Homo sapiens: one gene and its partners. The protein of the gene in region 2 interacts with the protein of the main gene of each other region in a pairwise test. Each region holds a gene or a part of one and is shown on either strand. Other genes may lie near its edges.

What was found.
Region 1: the proteins of TBX19 (region 2) and GCM2 interact in binary tests that used the Homo sapiens proteins (3 or more experiments, as listed by UniProt).
Region 3: the proteins of TBX19 (region 2) and IRX6 interact in binary tests that used the Homo sapiens proteins (3 or more experiments, as listed by UniProt).

The regions. Positions count from the first base shown.
Region 1 is NC_000006.12:10,872,684-10,879,127, reverse strand, and holds the end of GCM2 (chorion-specific transcription factor GCMb), read left to right. Parts: intron 1-1,735; coding exon 1,736-1,988; intron 1,989-2,570; coding exon 2,571-2,683; intron 2,684-3,111; coding exon 3,112-3,237; intron 3,238-4,194; coding exon 4,195-5,133; 3' UTR 5,134-5,905; downstream 5,906-6,444. UniProt on the Homo sapiens protein: Transcription factor that binds specific sequences on gene promoters and activate their transcription. Through the regulation of gene transcription, may play a role in parathyroid gland development.
Region 2 is NC_000001.11:168,311,808-168,314,982, forward strand, and holds the end of TBX19 (T-box transcription factor TBX19), read left to right. Parts: intron 1-900; coding exon 901-1,195; 3' UTR 1,196-2,619; downstream 2,620-3,175. UniProt on the Homo sapiens protein: Transcriptional regulator involved in developmental processes. Can activate POMC gene expression and repress the alpha glycoprotein subunit and thyroid-stimulating hormone beta promoters.
Region 3 is NC_000016.10:55,319,481-55,327,202, reverse strand, and holds the start of IRX6 (iroquois-class homeodomain protein IRX-6), read right to left. Parts: upstream 3,001-7,722; 5' UTR 2,112-3,000; coding exon 2,067-2,111; intron 868-2,066; coding exon 610-867; intron 1-609. UniProt on the Homo sapiens protein: Transcription factor. Binds to the iroquois binding site (IBS) motif of target genes to regulate gene expression; functions as a transcriptional activator or repressor. Modulates expression of RCVRN, VSX1, BHLHE22/BHLHB5 and TACR3/Nk3r.

The DNA of each region.
Region 1 (6,444 bases), on a different chromosome or scaffold from region 2:
AGAAAAGATAAATAATACCTATGGTAGTAATAATGATTTCAACAATATCTTTGTAATTTTGGAAACAAAATCACCCATTAACCTTATTACTGTTAGAATGTGCAGTATTAATGATGTATACAAGTCTGAATTTTCCAACTGTGAATACTTCAGCTTTGCAAATGTTTGATCTAATTTTCCTGAGTGGCAAGAGTGGGGAGGAGATGCAAATGGCTTACTGCTATTATACACTCTTCTGAGCCTTTATTACACCAGCAAAGCTACTGGGTCTGGCTGCTACCCATCTTCTGTTTATATTCCAGCTATGCCACTGTGAAAGGTTATCTATTGAACCTCCACTTCCTTATTTAGTAAACAAGAGTAAAGATGTCCATCTTGCAAAGATGTTGTGAGAATTATATATATTGCATAATATGGCTTTGCAGGTCATACTGTTTCTGTTCCAAATATTCAATTCTGCACTGTAGTGTGAAAGCAGCCCTAAACATTACATAAAAGAAAGTGCTCAGTGGCCGGGCATGGTGGCTTATGCCTGTAATCCCAGCACTTTGGGAGGCCAAGGTGGGTGGATCATGAGGTCAGGAAGATCAAGACCATCCTGGCCAACATGGTGAAACCCCATCTCTACTAAAAATACAAACAATAGCCAGGCGTGGTGGCATGCACCTATAGTCCCAGGTAGTCAGGAGGCTGAGGCAGGAGAATCACTTGAACCTGGGAGGCGGAGGTTGCAGTGAGCTGAGATCATGCTACTACACTCCAGCCTGGGTGACAGAGTGAGATTCCATCTCAAAAAAAAGAAAAAAGGAAGTGCTCAGTAAAGGGTGATTTTTCAATGAAACTTATATGCAAAAGTGACATTTATTGCAGTGTAAATAATGCATTAAATTGACAAAGACTACCAAATATGAATACTAAGGCAATGCTCAGTATTTTAGATACAACTTATTATTGCAGCCATGTGGCTCTTTGTTGAGGAGAATGACAGTCCCATATTGCTCTGGGGAGCAGTCCCGTGCCAGACAAGCTCACCCACACCCCAAAGCTCATGGCTTAAGTCCCTCATTGCAGTACCCTTTTAAACTTGGAGAGCCAAGTTGAGAGTAGGGAGGGAAGCTGTTCTTTCCTCTCTGACATTACTCTGGGTGCCACTGCTAATGTGACTGACAGGTTTGGCATACAGAGCCAAGTGCTTTTGAAGAAAATGCACTGACTTAAAGATATTTACCAGTTAAATTGCATTTCAGTGATAGAACATTCCAATCACTTTTTCCCCTGGTACTTTGATACCTAACTTAAAAATGTTTTCAACATTTAAACACACCAAGAAGTGATATAACATAGTGGTAAGAAGTACAGGCTCTGGAATGGGACTGCCAGGGTGCAAATCCTGGATCCAGATCTTGCTAGCTGTGTGATGTGACCTTGGGCGAGTCGATTAACCTCTCTGGCCTCCATGTCCTCATCGGCAAATTGGAAATAATTGTTTGCCTATAATTTGAAGTCTAGATGAACTAATACATGTATAGCATTTAACAGATAAGCACTATATAAACATTAATTATTACCTGGTTGTCAGGAAGTCTTACATAGAAAGAGTGGCATTTTGGAATTTGACGTTACTGGATTTAAAAAGAACTGGTTTGTATCCTAATGTGCTCAGAGAAATTTTAGAGCATGATGTGTGCAGTTTGGACTGGATAGACTGACCACCCTTCCTTCTGCACTCTTCCAGGAGCTGGCCCTCTTTGACCAATTCCGAGAGTGGCCTGACGGCTATGTGCGCTTCATCTACAGCAGCGATGAGAAGAAGGCACAGCGTCACCTGAGCGGCTGGGCCATGCGCAACACCAACAACCACAATGGCCACATCCTCAAGAAGTCGTGCCTGGGTGTGGTGGTGTGTACACAGGCCTGCACCCTGCCCGACGGTTCCCGCCTGCAGCTGAGGCCGGCCATCTGCGACAAGGCACGGCTGAAACAGCAGAGTGAGGACATGGGGCCAGGGAGAGGGTGACCTTGGAGTCATGAGTTTTTTGTTGTTGTTGTTTTTGTTTGTTTGTTTGAGATGGAGCCTCACTCTGTCACTCAGGCTGGACTGCAATGGTGCAATCTCAGCTCACTGCAACCTCCGCCTCCCGGGTTCAAGCGATCCTCCTGCCTCAGCCTCCCAAGTAGCTGGGATTACAGGCATGCGCCACCACGCCCGGCTAATTTTGCATTTTTAGTAGAGACAGGGTTTCTCCATGTTGGTCAGGCTGGTCTTGAACTCCCGACATCAGGTGATCTGCCTGTCTCGGCCTCCCAAAGTGCTGGGATTAGAGGCGTGAGCCACCACACCCGGCTAATTTTGTATTTTTAGTAGAGACAAGGTTTCTCCATGTTGGTCAGGCTGGTCTTGAACTCCTGACCTCAAGTGATCCACCCGCCTCGGCCTCCCAAAGTGCTGGGATTACAGGCGTGAGCCACCGCGCCCGAGCATGAGTTCTTTGTTCCCAGCTAATTTTCCCCTTCTTCCTTCAGAAGGGTCTGGGGTCAGGGTTAATATTTCTCCCTTCTGGGCTTTGCAGAGAAGGCATGCCCTAACTGTCATTCTGCTTTGGAGTTGATTCCTTGTCGAGGGCACAGCGGATACCCCGTAACCAACTTTTGGCGGCTTGATGGCAACGCGATCTTTTTTCAGGTAGGTCAGGTGAGAACACAATTTGTGATGGATACTTTTCATCAGACCACAAAGGCCAAACCACCTGTCGTGTGCCTTGGGAACCCTGGGCCAAACAAAATACAGCCCCAGTGGCCAGAAATAGGTGCTGGAGCTCCCCAGGGACCTAGCGGGAGCCTAGAAATTCACTCACTACTTTGTGCTCTTTAAGGTACACAGATGGTAAACCAAGTTATAGTTCTTTTAATAGAGTGAAGGGATTGCAGGTGATCTTTTCAGATGTCAATTCTTGAGCCTGTTTTATTTGTTCAAGAATTTTTTTTTCTGTCATTTTGAAAGAAACAAAACTAAACTCTTGAGATGTTGGGAAAGGCATGATCAATTTTTGGGCAACATTGTCAGCTTCCTTTAGAGGCACAAATGTATGATTCATTTTCTCGTTATCGCAGGCCAAGGGAGTTCATGATCATCCAAGACCAGAGAGCAAATCAGAGACAGAAGCTAGAAGAAGCGCCATCAAGAGACAAATGGCCTCTTTCTACCAACCCCAGAAAAAGAGAATTCGAGAATCCGAGGTAACAGGGAGCTGATAGTGCACAGTGGTCTCAGCTCATTTTCATCCCAAGATACGCTGATCGTTATGCAAAATATGAAGGTCATACGTTAATTACAAGGGTTTGATTTCATCTGAAAATTATACGTCTGTAACAAAATATCATTAAATCAACATTTGGACAGGGTTTCTAATCCCTTCTCCTTAAAACAAAAAGCAACAATCTCTACAGGCAATGATACAGTCCTGATATGTCAGTGTGCTGAGCTGACATCCTAATATAAGGGCGATTATGCAACAGTAATAAAGATAGAAATATGTGCCTACCAACAGGAAGTTAACAGTGCACCCTTGAGAGGGTCCTTTCCATTATTTCATCCACAAGAATGGATAAAATTTCTCTGCGCAATTTAATTCAGTTTGGCTTTTCAACCAAAGCACGCCAAGCAGGCAGAGTGTTAGTGTAAGGATAACAGAAGCTGACATTTTCCAGCACTTCCTATGTGCCAGGCACTGGTCTAAGAGTTTCACACATTTAATGGTTGCAGAAACCTTATAATGAGGTTACTGTTATTAAGTTCCATTTTTAAGATGAAGGATCTGAGGCTCAGAGAGGTTAAGTGGCTTGTACAATTTGTGAGGGACAGAGTCAGGAATTGAACCCAGGCCCGTGTGGCTCCTAAGTCTCCACTATTAGGAAGACAGTATAGGTGAGAACAGGACCATCTGCCACTCAGAAGCATCCTACCTGGCTACCATGGACCTTTGTCATTCAGTCGTTGGTATTTATGTCTGAGTGAGCCCAAGCTTAGCAACCCCTGGACCACGTGCTTACATCACGTACCTGAGCAGTGCCATGTTCACAACACAGAGCCCAGCACATGGATGTCTGTTTTTACTTACTTCTAGGCTATTGTTACAGGTGAGGGTGTCCACACGATTTACATAGCGTGTGTCTATGTTTGTATCATTTTTCTAGGCAGAAGAAAATCAAGACAGCAGTGGTCATTTCAGCAACATACCTCCCTTGGAAAATCCAGAAGACTTTGATATAGTTACTGAAACCAGCTTCCCTATTCCAGGGCAGCCTTGCCCTTCCTTCCCAAAGTCTGATGTTTACAAAGCTACCTGTGACCTAGCCACCTTTCAAGGAGACAAAATGCCACCCTTCCAGAAATACTCAAGCCCAAGAATCTATTTGCCTAGGCCACCTTGCAGCTATGAATTGGCAAACCCTGGTTATACAAATTCAAGCCCATATCCCACCCTTTATAAGGATTCCACCAGTATCCCTAATGACACAGACTGGGTTCATCTGAACACACTACAATGTAATGTCAATTCATACAGCAGCTATGAGAGAAGCTTTGATTTCACCAACAAACAGCATGGCTGGAAACCAGCTCTTGGAAAACCCAGCCTTGTGGAAAGGACTAACCATGGGCAGTTTCAGGCCATGGCCACTCGCCCTTATTATAACCCAGAGCTTCCCTGCAGGTACCTCACGACTCCACCACCAGGTGCCCCTGCCCTACAAACCGTGATCACCACCACCACTAAAGTGTCCTACCAGGCCTACCAGCCCCCTGCTATGAAATACAGTGACAGTGTGCGAGAGGTGAAGAGCCTTTCGAGCTGTAACTATGCTCCTGAAGATACTGGGATGTCTGTCTATCCAGAACCCTGGGGTCCTCCGGTGACAGTCACCAGGGCAGCCTCTCCTTCAGGGCCACCTCCTATGAAAATTGCAGGAGATTGCCGGGCCATCAGACCCACTGTGGCTATTCCCCACGAGCCAGTTTCCTCTAGGACAGATGAAGCAGAGACTTGGGATGTGTGTCTGTCTGGGCTGGGCTCCGCAGTCAGTTACTCAGACAGAGTGGGTCCCTTCTTTACCTACAACAATGAGGATTTTTGAAAGACAATCCAGGGGACATAATAGCAGTGTGCATGCAGGCAGGAGGCAGGGAAATGTGAAATGGCAATGATCTCTTATTGAGTTGGGAGATTCACCTTGTGTGCAAAGAAACACAGATAGTAGTAAAAATTCTGAGTAACTGAGAAAATAATCAGTTGGAAATGATTAGATAATATGGGAAATTTCACACAGCATTTTGAAACTGGCTACAATACATAGAAGTAGTGAGGAAAGTGTGAGTCTCTCAAATGAACAAATAAGCAAACTGTAGGAGGTTAAATACTGACCTAAGTTCACTTAGCTTATTAGCAGGAGTAGAAGTCAAGGATTCTGGTTCTTATTCTAGGACTTTTCCCATTAGAGCACCTTAGGGAATTTCACATCCCTAGAGGCTGCCAAAATAGCTTCAGGAAGAAATTTTTACAATCTTATCACCTGAGTCATTTCATGAAATTTTTGTTTAGCATTTAGAACCTGTTAAACTAGCTTCAGGAAGTAATTTTGATTGTTTTATCTCCAACGTGTGTATCTACAGCTTTTCAAAAAATCTCTAGCAATGGTAAAGTTCAGTTGTTTTTAAAAGATTCAATATTAGCTTTTCATAACATGATAGTTTCCTAACCTTTTCATAACCTTTTCATAACATGATAGTTTCCATAACAGAGACAGCCTAACAATGATGAGTTGTATTTAATGGATTACCATTGTACTAAATACATTTTTTTTCTGATTAGGTTTCAGAATTATAATTAAAATGTTTTGCTGAAATACAGCTTTACGGTTCCTCTGTTATTCTTCATAAAGGTAATTGATAATGTTCAATTAAATGTAATAAGGACATTTTAAATGAAGCTAATTCTTGCCTGACTTCAAAACAGAAATAGGAAAAAAATTGTTCATATTATGACCTGGGAAACAGTTGTTATGAAACATTAAAACTTATTAAATTGGCTGAGAGAGGTGGCTCACGCCTGTAATCCCAACACTTTGGGAGACCAAGGCAGGAGGATTGCTTGAGCCCAGGAGTTTGAGACCAGCCTGGGCAACAGGGAGAGCCCTCATCTCTGGGCAACAGAGAGAGACCCCAGGGCATGGCAGTGGGCCTGTGGTTCTAACTACTTGGGAAGCTGAGGTGGGAGGATCATTTGAACCCACGAGGTCAAGGCTGCAGTCAGCCATCTTTGTGCTACTGCACTCCAGCTTGGGCAACAGAGCAAGACCCTGTCTCAAAAAAATAAATAAATAAATAAATAAATAAAACAAGTATTAAATAGTTTGACTGTTTTGTAGTTTATTTGCAAAATACCTGCT
Region 2 (3,175 bases):
AAGCTTGGCTGTACATTACAGTCACCTGGGAAACTTAAAAAAATCCTCGTACTCAGGCTGCATGCCAGATCAGTTCAATCAGAATCTCTGGGGCAGGGGAGTGGGGTGAGAGTGGGATCCAGGCACCAATATTACTTTAAAAACCCCCCCTAGTGATTCCAATGTGCCGAATGTGCAATCAAGTGTGTGAACCTGTGCTACAGAACTAGAGAAGGCAAAGAAAATGTTGTAGCTCCCAGCCTTTCAGCCAGGCACCAGAGCTCACAGGCGGAGACCAGGAATGGAAGAATTAATGTTAACAACCACCATTTACTGAGTACTACATGCTAAGGACCATATACTCCTCTTATTTAATCCTTGTAGCAATCTCTGTAAGGTAGGTAAAATTATGAATCCACATCTTGAAGATGAGAAATTGACACTCAGAGATATTAAATAATCTAGCCAAGGCCACAGAGCTAATTAAGTGGTAGAGCTGGGATTTAAACTTAAGTCTTCTGACAGTGATGTTTCCTGGTTATTATGCCACATTGGCCAGGGAGAGATCATATGCAGAAATCATACAGTTTTAATACCTTTTTTTCTACTGCCCTGCCAATTTTACATAGGCTGCAAGGGAGCCCAGATAAATGAAATTCTGTGTCTAAAACCAAATAATTCGCTGGTGGCCGGGCCAGTACCAGAATACTTAATCTTATCATTATTCCACCATACTTTGCTGCTTCTCTTAGCTTTTCTGCAGAAACAGGACCAATCTGCGTCATAGCTAGAAATAAAGCCATGGCCAGAAGCCCTCCTGTAACCATGCCCTTCTCAGCACTGTGTACATGCTTGTCAGGTGGCACTCCTTCCTTGGAGTGCCAGTGAACATTCCCTTCCCCTCTTTCTCTGTCTCTGCAGCCCCTACCCGTGCCTGTGGACCATCAGCAATGGTGCCGGAGGCCCCAGTGGGCCAGGCCCGGAGGTGCACGCCAGCACCCCAGGAGCATTTCTCCTCGGAAACCCAGCTGTGACTTCACCCCCTTCTGTGCTCTCCACCCAAGCACCCACTTCGGCTGGTGTGGAGGTTCTGGGGGAGCCCTCGCTAACCAGCATTGCTGTGTCCACCTGGACAGCAGTGGCCTCGCATCCCTTCGCGGGCTGGGGTGGCCCAGGAGCGGGTGGGCACCATTCTCCTTCCTCACTGGATGGTTAAGCAGGATCCTAGGAGCCTCTTTGCACAGCGATCCTTCCATGTGTAGAGTGCTTAGAAACCCCATCAACTGATCTAGTGAGTCAGACTGTGGAATCTCCCTTCCCACTAGCTGGAGGTGGAGGTGGGTTATTACAGAAGTCATACTGGGAGAGGGTTCAGTTTGGATGATGCTAGTTAGATCATTTGCATCTCTCCACCATTTTCTTCTGCACTCCCATTTTCTCTGCAGCTTATTCTTGCCATGCTTAGGTGACAGAAGTTTGTTAAGTACCATCCTTGTGCCCTGCCTCTTATTCTCAAATCGTTCTGGAAAGCCTCACTTCCTTTTCTGTGGAGAAGGTGCAAAGCTGTTAAATGAGCTCAGAGTTTACCTAGCTAAGGCCACTGCTTCCTGCTTTGTGAAGCCTGGAAAGTATGTGTGGCCACAGGGCTCAGGTTCACACTTCTGCTTTGAGACCAGGATGGGGTGTAAGCCATAGAGTAAGGTTAACAAAAAGAATAAAGCTAATCATGTATTACAAACAGCAGTGTGCCCAGACTTGTGGAAATGAAGTCATGTCACTCCTCTGCTCAGAAACCTTCAATGGTTCACCATTACCAGTGGAATGAAGTCAATTCTCCTCACTATAACTGGGTGTGGTAGTTTAAGCCTATAATCTCAGCCCTTTTGGAGGCCAAGGTAAGAGGATCGCTTGAGGTCAGGAGTTCGAGACCAGCTTGTGCAACAAAGTGAGAGCCTGTCTCTACAAAAAATAGTCATGCACACAAAATTAGCTGGGCATGGTGGCCTGTGCCTATAGTCCCAACTACTTAGAGGAGGATCGCTTGATCTCAGGAGGTTGAGGCTGCAGTGAATTATGATTGTGGCATTGCACTCCAGCCTGGGTGGTAGATCAAGGCTTTGTTTCATTTGAAAAAAAAGAAAGAAAGAAAGAAAGAAAGAAATCCTACTACGAGCGATCACACCATCTGGCCTGAAACCACTTCCCCAGCTTAGGTCCCTCTGTTATCCTGTTGGCCTCCTATGTATTGGTCAAGGCAGGCATCTCTGTTCTCTGAACATTCATTGCACTTTCCCACCTCTATACCTTGCCTGTGCCTTAGTGTCCTCTTTTTTCCAGTTCACCTGTGCGAATCCGACCCACCTCCCAGAGCCTGGCTGAAACGTCACTCCCTGCATCCAACATCTGATCTGCTGAGATATGTCTGATCTATCTCTGCTCGCTGTTCTCCCGTTGTTTTTGCCTCTGCCATAGAGCTCACCTCATTTTGCCTTGTATTTTTGTTACCTGTGAGTGTGTCTCTCCCTATTAGACTGTAAGCCTCTCGAGGGTGAGGCCTAGCCTTCTTGTCTTTGTAACCCACAGCAGCTGGTACTGTGCCTTGCCTATTGTAGGTGCCCAATAAACATTTGCTGAACTGAATTGGTGTAATGTGCATGTGTGCTACAAGGACGGTGTGAAGTGGCTGGGGGGCAGATCTCAGAGACACATGCCCCATGACACATAGGTGCATCCGTGTGGGAGCCTAGGAACATGCTGGCTGTTAGTTACACGGGCTTCTCATCTGAGGCACCACCAATTGTCAGTGAATGACAATCATATATGGAGACAGGGTGTGTTAGAGTGGTTATTCCCAAATACTGGTTCTTGGATCCCCTAAGTCAGGATCACCTGGAACAGGGGACCCTTGCTAGACATACAGATTCGTGGGTATACCCCGTACCTGTTGGATCAGAATCTTTGGGGCTGGCGTTCAGGAATCTGCATTTCAAACAAGAGCTCCAGGCATTGGCCCTGGGCTAGGTTTGGAAACTCCTTGCCTAGAAGAGAGAAACAGGATGATAAATACTCCAGGAACCTTATTTCAGATGAGTTTTTACCTCTGCCCCAGCCAAGGTCATTGCTATAACCCGTGAGCAGAATCAGTTTCGTGAGTCTTCCTCCTCTTTTTCTACCTACTACTGGATGTGCTAATAAC
Region 3 (7,722 bases), on a different chromosome or scaffold from region 2:
ACTGGTACTGGCCGTGTGACCTTGGGCACAGTTGCTTAACCAGTGGCTTAACCACTCTGTGCCTCAATTTCTTCCTTGGTAAAATGGGGATAATAGTACTTATAGGTTATTGAAGAAGACCATGCTGGCAGAATGCTTGGCAGAATCCCTGGTGCAGAATAAGCAGTAGTTAAATATTAGCTGCTGTTATTACTGTACCACTTGTCCCTCCCTCCTTTCCCCCCTTACTGCCCCCCACCCCCCGCCCCCTGCCCCACAACACACACCAGCTGGGGCACTTCCTGCTTTAATCTTCTTCAGGAGCTTTTCTCTGACCCTTTGTATCTCTGTGACATTGGGCAAAGTATTTGAACTCCTGTGCACCTCTATTTCCTCATTCTTAAATTGAGATTAATGATTACTTGCCTACCTCACAGAATTAATAGAAGTATAAATGTTTTCTAAACAGTATGAAGTTCTGCAAACTGTAAGGTACTGTATTTTTTTGTCCTCCTTATACACAGTCCTAACCATTTCCTTTCCTCGGGAGGTGTGGGTCTTTCCTTGACTTTCTCTGGATTTCACCTGTCTCTACTGCTCACTCCCCTGGGACTCCACCCCTGTACTCACCAGTGCCCCATACAGTGAGGGGGGCTCTGGGCTATAGGGCAGGTAGCCAGGGTAGCTCTGGGCAGCTGCAGCGGCCGCATAGGGTGCTCCATAGATGCCCAAGGCGGCGCCCAGCTCCGGTCGCGCACTGCCCAGCAGTCGACTATCGTAGGGTGCGCAGCAGAGAGCGGGCGCTGGGGTGGAGCCTGATGCCACATCTGAGACAGAGCGTTGGGTAGATTCGCAGCATGTGGTGCTGGAACTTGCCGACGCCAGAAACTATAGGGGCAAGAAAGAGGGCACTGGAGGTCAGAGACCCCCCCCCCACCCCCGCCCCCGCTCCCGCTGAAGGGAGCTAGAAACAAAGAAGAGAAAATCAGATAATCAGATTGCTCCTTCATTCATTCCTTCATTATGCATTAACTAAATGCCACCTGGGCTGAGCATTCTGTTAGGTGCTGGGACGGGAATTATAAATTAACCAAACTGCCCTTATAGATGCTCCTACTCCATTGCTAAGGCCCCAGAGCCCCAGGAGGCCGGGAAAATGTGAACATTTTGAAACCGGAATTAAAGACACCAAACCCTCTGCTCCCTTCCCTACCCTCCTCCCAGGATCCTGCAAAGGCGGAGCTAGAAGGTGGCCTTAGAGACCATTATTAACGTCTCATTCCTGCTCCCATTCTATAGATTGGGAGTGGATAATCAGAGAGAGTGTGAGACTTGTCTAAGATCACACAGCAGGTCAAAGGTCGAGCCGGCACTAGACAACAGGAAAATACACTCAGAACTCTAGAGAAAAGCTGGAGAACAGTGGAGGGGGTGTCCGCAGAACTTTCCCAGGAAACCCTTGTCATTGCACAACATCCACTTTGGTTTGGAAAATCGAGGGAACCGGAGAGCTTGGGCCCGCCCAAGGAAGGGGTAGGAGAATAGCCGAGGTCAACAAATCAACAACAATATGGTGAGATGGACAGCGTTGTAGCCTACAAGTTCTTTCTTTCTCTTTCTTTTTCTTTCTTTCTTTCCTTCTTTCTTTCTTTCTCTTTCTTTCTCTCTCTCTCTCTCTCTCTCTCTCTCTCTCCTTCCTTCCTTCCTTCCTTCCTTCCTTCCTTCCTTCCTTCCTTCCTTCCTTATTTCTTTCTTTCTTTTCTTTCTTTCTTTCTCTCCCGGCCACCTCAGACTTCTGTATAGGAGGAGGCCTGACTGGGAGATCCCTGTGATCCCACCCACCTCACTGAGCGCGTGGTCAGAGTGCTCATGTTTCAGGTCACAAGATTTTCCAGCGTGCACTCCGGGGTGAAACGTTCTCATTTAGGGACTGGGGATGTCAGAGGAGGCTGTGACACATTACCCTGGTCCTTGCTCCTTCTGGCTTCCCCCAGAACACAAGAGGAGGATGATCAGAGGCAGGCGCCGTGCACTAGGCACTCCCTCCACCCAGTCTGTCCCCTATCCCCCATAGAGGCGCCTCTTACCTGGGAAGCGCCGCGGTACGGGTGTCCAAAGTGTGGGAAGGACATGGTGGCTGTCCCTGGCCCGTCTCTCTCTTCCCTGTCGAGTTCCCGTCTCAGCCCAGCTGTTCCGCGCCCCCAGCAGTGAGGTGTCTCAGTTCCTTACACCGCTGCGGATGCCCAGCGCCGGTTCCTTCGCCTGGTTGGCCCCAGTGGAGGCAGAGCCGAGGGCAGCCCGGCTGCCGAGCCCTGCGCTCCGGAAGGCGCCCCTCCGGCCCGTGGGGTCCGGAAGACAGAAGGGCCCATGGATGGGCAGGGGAAGGAAGAAGATGCGGGTTCCCAAAGGCGCGTGGTGGCGAGGTGAGGCGCGGCGCGGCGCGGGGCTGTGAGGCTCCGGAGGTGTCCCAGTCCAAGGTGGCCAGAGGCTCAATGTGACGTCACGGTAATCCCGGGCCGCCAGACGGGACCCCGGGCCCCGGGACCCTGGGCCACCAAGCGTGCCAAGCGCAGCCAGCCCGTGCGCGCGCGCGCACTCTCACCCACACTCACACTTGCTCCGGGAGGTTTGTGCAGCTGGCGAGGAACGTCAAAAACCCTGACCCTCTCTGCTCGGCGCTGAATCCTACCCCTTTTCGCCTGGAGCTCACGCGCGCGCGCACACACACACAACCTCTCCAAATTACCCGGGAGAAGTAGGAGAAACGCCTCCCTCTGAGCCGCGCAGGCCCCGGGCGCAGCGCGCTCACCTCCTCCCCTGCGGCCCGGAGGAGGCGAGAGGCAACCGGGGCGGCGAGGGAGGAGAGAATACAAAAGAAGAGACAGGAGAAAAGTGGGGGAGAAAGGCAAGAGGGAGAAGGAGGAGGGGAGAGGGGAGACAGGAGTCTGAGTGAACAGAGGCGCGTGGGGGAGGGGGAGGGAGCTGGGGTGGGCGAAGGCTGGGCGGAGGCTGAGCACTGGCAGGTGGAGGAGAGCAGAGGCCCGGGGGAGAAGCCTCCAGCCCGGTTCCTCCGCCCCTGCGCTGAAGTAAAGTTTGTTCACGCCACAGGCCCGGCTCTCGTTGGAGCAGCTCCGGGCAGCGTCGGTGGATCCCACTGGCCCGCCCATCTTTGTCCTCGGGGATCTGGTTCCCCGCCTCAGCCTCCCCAGGACTCGGGCTAGATTCCGGCTCTCCAAGCCCTGGCCTGGCCCAGGGCCTTGACCTTGGAGCTTCTCTGCAGCTGCCTGGTCCTCGAGTAGGCCGGATAGCGCCCCCTCGAGGCCGAGGTTCGGGATCCCTCAGATTCCGTCGGGAAACTCGCCAGGTCCGATCCCTGGCAGCCGCAGGCTGCTTGCTAAGATCCCTGGGCATCTCCTCCGAAGGCAAGGCTTGGCTGCCTCGCGCGCGCGCCTCCCGCAGTGGCCGCGGGGCAGCCAGGGAGCCTGAAGAAGGCTCCCGGTCCGGGCTGCAGCCCCTGCGCTCCGCTGGGGGTGGCGCTGGAGAGCCGCAGTGGAGCGCTCCGGGAGGGCGGCCCATTCCCTGCGCTCCTCCTGGACGCCCGGCTGGGCCCAGCGGTCTGACCACCCCCTCACTCCATCCCAGGGGTCTTCAAAGGGGCACTGATGGGTGGGCGGCGGCAGGGGTGGGGGAGGCTCGTTGGTACCCAGGAAGGGGCTGCCTCCTCTAGGCCTGGCCCCGAGACATGGAACCTCCAATTTGCGAGCACGGTAGACTGCACATCTGAAGGCTCAGTACTCTGGCCCCAGCTGCCCTTCTGAGAGCCTCCAACCCGCGACGTCTAGGGGTGAAAAGGGACTGTCGGTCTGGTAGGGGAAGGTCTTCGGTGGGCACTGCAGGAATCCAGTGGGATTTGCAGGCCAGAAACCTCAGAAAGCCTTGCCTTTCACTTACCGGGGTCACCGCGCTTTATACTTTTAAAAGCGCTTTATACTTTTAAAGTTGCACCAGGCTCTTGCTGCAACTCCTCCAAGGAGCCATAGGGGTTGGTTCAAGGGCCCAGTTTTATTTTCTAGTTGAAACGCGAGAGCCTGTGGCCCAGAAGATAGCAACGGCTCTGGGTTCTTGTATGAGGCGGGGCAAGGTCTGGGGTCCTGGACGGGGCGTACCTCAACTCCAAGTTTGCCACTAGCACCTTACACTGATCTCTTTAGCATGACATCTCTAGGTCCCCACACCCCGTTTTAAAAACACATTCTGCAGAATGCTCAAGGAGCTTAAGCCACAAACCAGAGACTCCTCTGCTTAAGAGATTGTTAACATGAGGACAAGCTCCATTCTAAATACTAACAAACACAGCTACTGCTGCTGCTGCTGCTGCTGTTACCTTGGAGAAACCTTGCGTTCATCCAGGGAAACTCCTAGTTAGAAAAAGAATTATAGTCCTCACCAGATTGACTTAGTGATAAAAATTCACAGTAATAGATAGATCCCTTGATTTTTCAAAATGCACTTTGGAACTATCCACACATTTGCAGCTTGGATACATCTATGCTATTTTTTTAAAGTAAGAATTGGAGAGTATTCATTAAATTCATCCCTTGGGGAAGATTACTGCTAATTAATTAATTGCAAACATTTCCAGAGGGAAGGTATGTCAATTGTAAAGTAATAAAATTAGATAGTAGAAATACTGACTCAGCAACTTCGATTGCCCATTTGTTCCTAAGCAGAATTTTTTTTAAAAATTTTATGACAGAAAAATGGGGCTGGTGGTGGAGAAAAAGCATTAGCCCTGTCCCTTGGCGATATGGTTGCAAAGGAGAAACTACCATATAGGAATTATTGATTTTTAGCTGATTTATAAGACCTCTGTTTTATCAATGCTGTGTGCAGGGCCTCCAGGCCTACTTCTTGTCTTTGCTCTCTAGGATTTGAGAAAAGCAACACAATTTTTTAAAAAGAAAAGAGGATGTTGAGGAACAGTGGGGAAGAAAATTGGGAAGTAGGACTATGAAGATATCTTGGCATTTTTCTTCTTCTGGAAAGACAAGCGAACAAACAAAAGAGCAGGTTTTATGTTAAGACACCTTTTCTATTGTCCTCAAAGTTGCTTGATGGTTTTTTGCAGCTTCTATCAGAATACTTCCCAGGGAGGAAGGCCTGCCATGTCTCCTCCGGCTTCCCAGCCTTGCAAGACCTTGATTTAACATTTCCTTCCCAGGGAGAGGCTGCACCCACGGTAAACCTCCCCTGTTTTGCTGACATTTGATTGTTACCACCTTGAGCATTTAATGGGGTTTCCTAAAAATGGTTTTTATGAAATGTGCCTACTCTTCTTGTTATTTTGGGACCCTCGTAACAAAACAATGCCAGTGGGTTAAGCCAATATCAACCTCTGTCTGGCAGAAACCTCAGGTGAGAAGATGTCTGTTTCTTGGAAAATCTGATTGAGGGGAAGCTGCAGTGGAATTTGCTTTTGTCCTCCTGACGGTTCACAGACTCCCACTTCAGCAGCCTTGGGCTTCTCCACCCCGGCAGCTTTTCATTGCTTTGTTCAGCACTGATTAATTTAGTTTCGGAGAAAAAGCCCCAATTGTATATGTGTACACATAGAATTTTATTGAAGCAAGTAAATAAATCCATCAAATATAGACCCTCCCAGTTATATTTAAGGGAGTCATTCCACCTAAAGTATTTTAAACAAATGATAGAGATTCTTTTGTTGTACTGTGCAACATGCCTGATAGTTCCTCTAGCTGCTCATTAAAACAAATGTGAAACAAATTAAACAATCAAAAGCCTATGTGTACCAGAGAGTACTAATCCACATTGTTTATTTGAAGCTCTTATTGCTTTGCTTCAAATGCACTGAAGTTCCTGAGCAGGCGGAGTAAAGTATGTATGTTTCACAATAAGCTTGCATGCAGGTACCACAAAAAACAAACAAACAATAAAAGAGGAAAAACAAACTGTATTTCATTATTTTGGGTTAAAAAAGTCTATGATTTTCTAATGATTTATAAAGACAGCAGATTTTACAGGGGGAAATATAACAACCTGGAAATGCCCCAAATCAACTTCAAATGCCTCAAATCCCAGATGGAATGAGCGAGTACACGAACATAATAACAGAGTTGAAGATGTGCTAAATTATATTTTTTAAGTATGGATTTTTTAGTGACTGTTTTTGAACTGAGAAGAATGAAATTTCCTCAAATCTATGCATGAATGAACAAGTGCATCTGGACAGATGCATCTATAATTTATACTGATCAGTCACCGCAGGTCTCATGGAGTAAAGCCGAAATGAACACTAATTGTTTTGACGGAAGTAGTGTGCATGGCATCTGATTGTGAAATGCAGTGAGTCCCTGCCTTGCCTGAATACATATTGTCAACAGCAACTCTGGCATCAGGAGGGGAAAATAAAAAGACAATAATTCCCAGATGAGAGTGTTGAAGCCTCTTGTCAAAAAGGTGCCAAATAGAAAGAAAGAATTAACTTCTTCGGGATAAAGTAAAAAATAAGACTGAATGAAGAGGTCTTGGTTTGACAGCATTGTACTTCAGTTTAGAGTTAAAATTAATAAAGTGTGTTAATAATAGTAAAATTCTGTAGCATTTGTTGAGTGCTTGGGAGCTTTCCTAAACACCTCTGCTTTATCTTATTTAAGGCTCATGATAAGGATATTGGAGAGGTGAGAAGCAAGTCTAAGATCACACAGCCAAGTAAGTGGCAGAGGAAGGATCAGACTTCAGACCTCCTGATTCTGGGTCTTTTCACAGAACCATATTTCAAACATATAGAAAGCCAATCACAGCCAGGAGATATTGCTAACTCCAGTTGGACTGTGTGAATTCACATAGTGTGTGCCATGATGATGCAGTATAATTTAGCAGAGAAAAAATCTTAAAGAGATGTCACTGTAAGAAAATTAAGTTCAGGGTCTATACCCCCTGTTTGATGTGACTGTGTATTATGAAAGAGCTTATGTAGTAATTGGGAGTTTTAGAAATTTGGTGCGAATCATTAATTGAATGGCAAAGAGCAAACAGACCCAGCCATGACTGATAAAAACATACAAAAAACCAAAATAGCACCACTCCCCTGCCGAAAAAAAAATCTTCAAAAAAAAAAAATTCCAGCCAAAAGATAATGTCTCTATTTCTACAATGGTTTAAAAACAACTCCTTGAAATTAGTTACGGACTATTTTCAGGAAGAGGAATTTTTAAAAAATCTGGTTTTGGCATCAGCAGGTGGGGAGATTTGCTGCATTAACTTCTCATTTTCAAAGCAGTTTTTATGTATAAAAATTCTTGATTATTTTTATCCTGTAGATGACGGCATCTTTCTAATGAAAAGCTCAAGGCATCTGATGTGTTTTCAAGGAATTAAACTTTAAAGTAAACAACAGATGTATGGATTTGAAAACCAGGGAACAATTTTTGAAGCCTAAGTCTTTCGAAAAGAAATGCATGTAAGAAATTAAGACTTTAAAGGAATAACACATAGGGACTCACCGGGATAAGATGCTATGCCCCTTTCTCCCTATGTGATAGGACCTAGAAATGGTCCTTCAGTATACAATTAGGAAATAGAATCATGGCCTAGACAATCAAGAAAGGGAGCCATGGTGTTGCTGGCTTCAGCTACAGGAGGGGCTGTATGTTGTTGCAAACAGCCCTCTAACTGAAGCATTGCTAACATGGAGTTTATAAGGATATTTTGTCATCTTCCCCC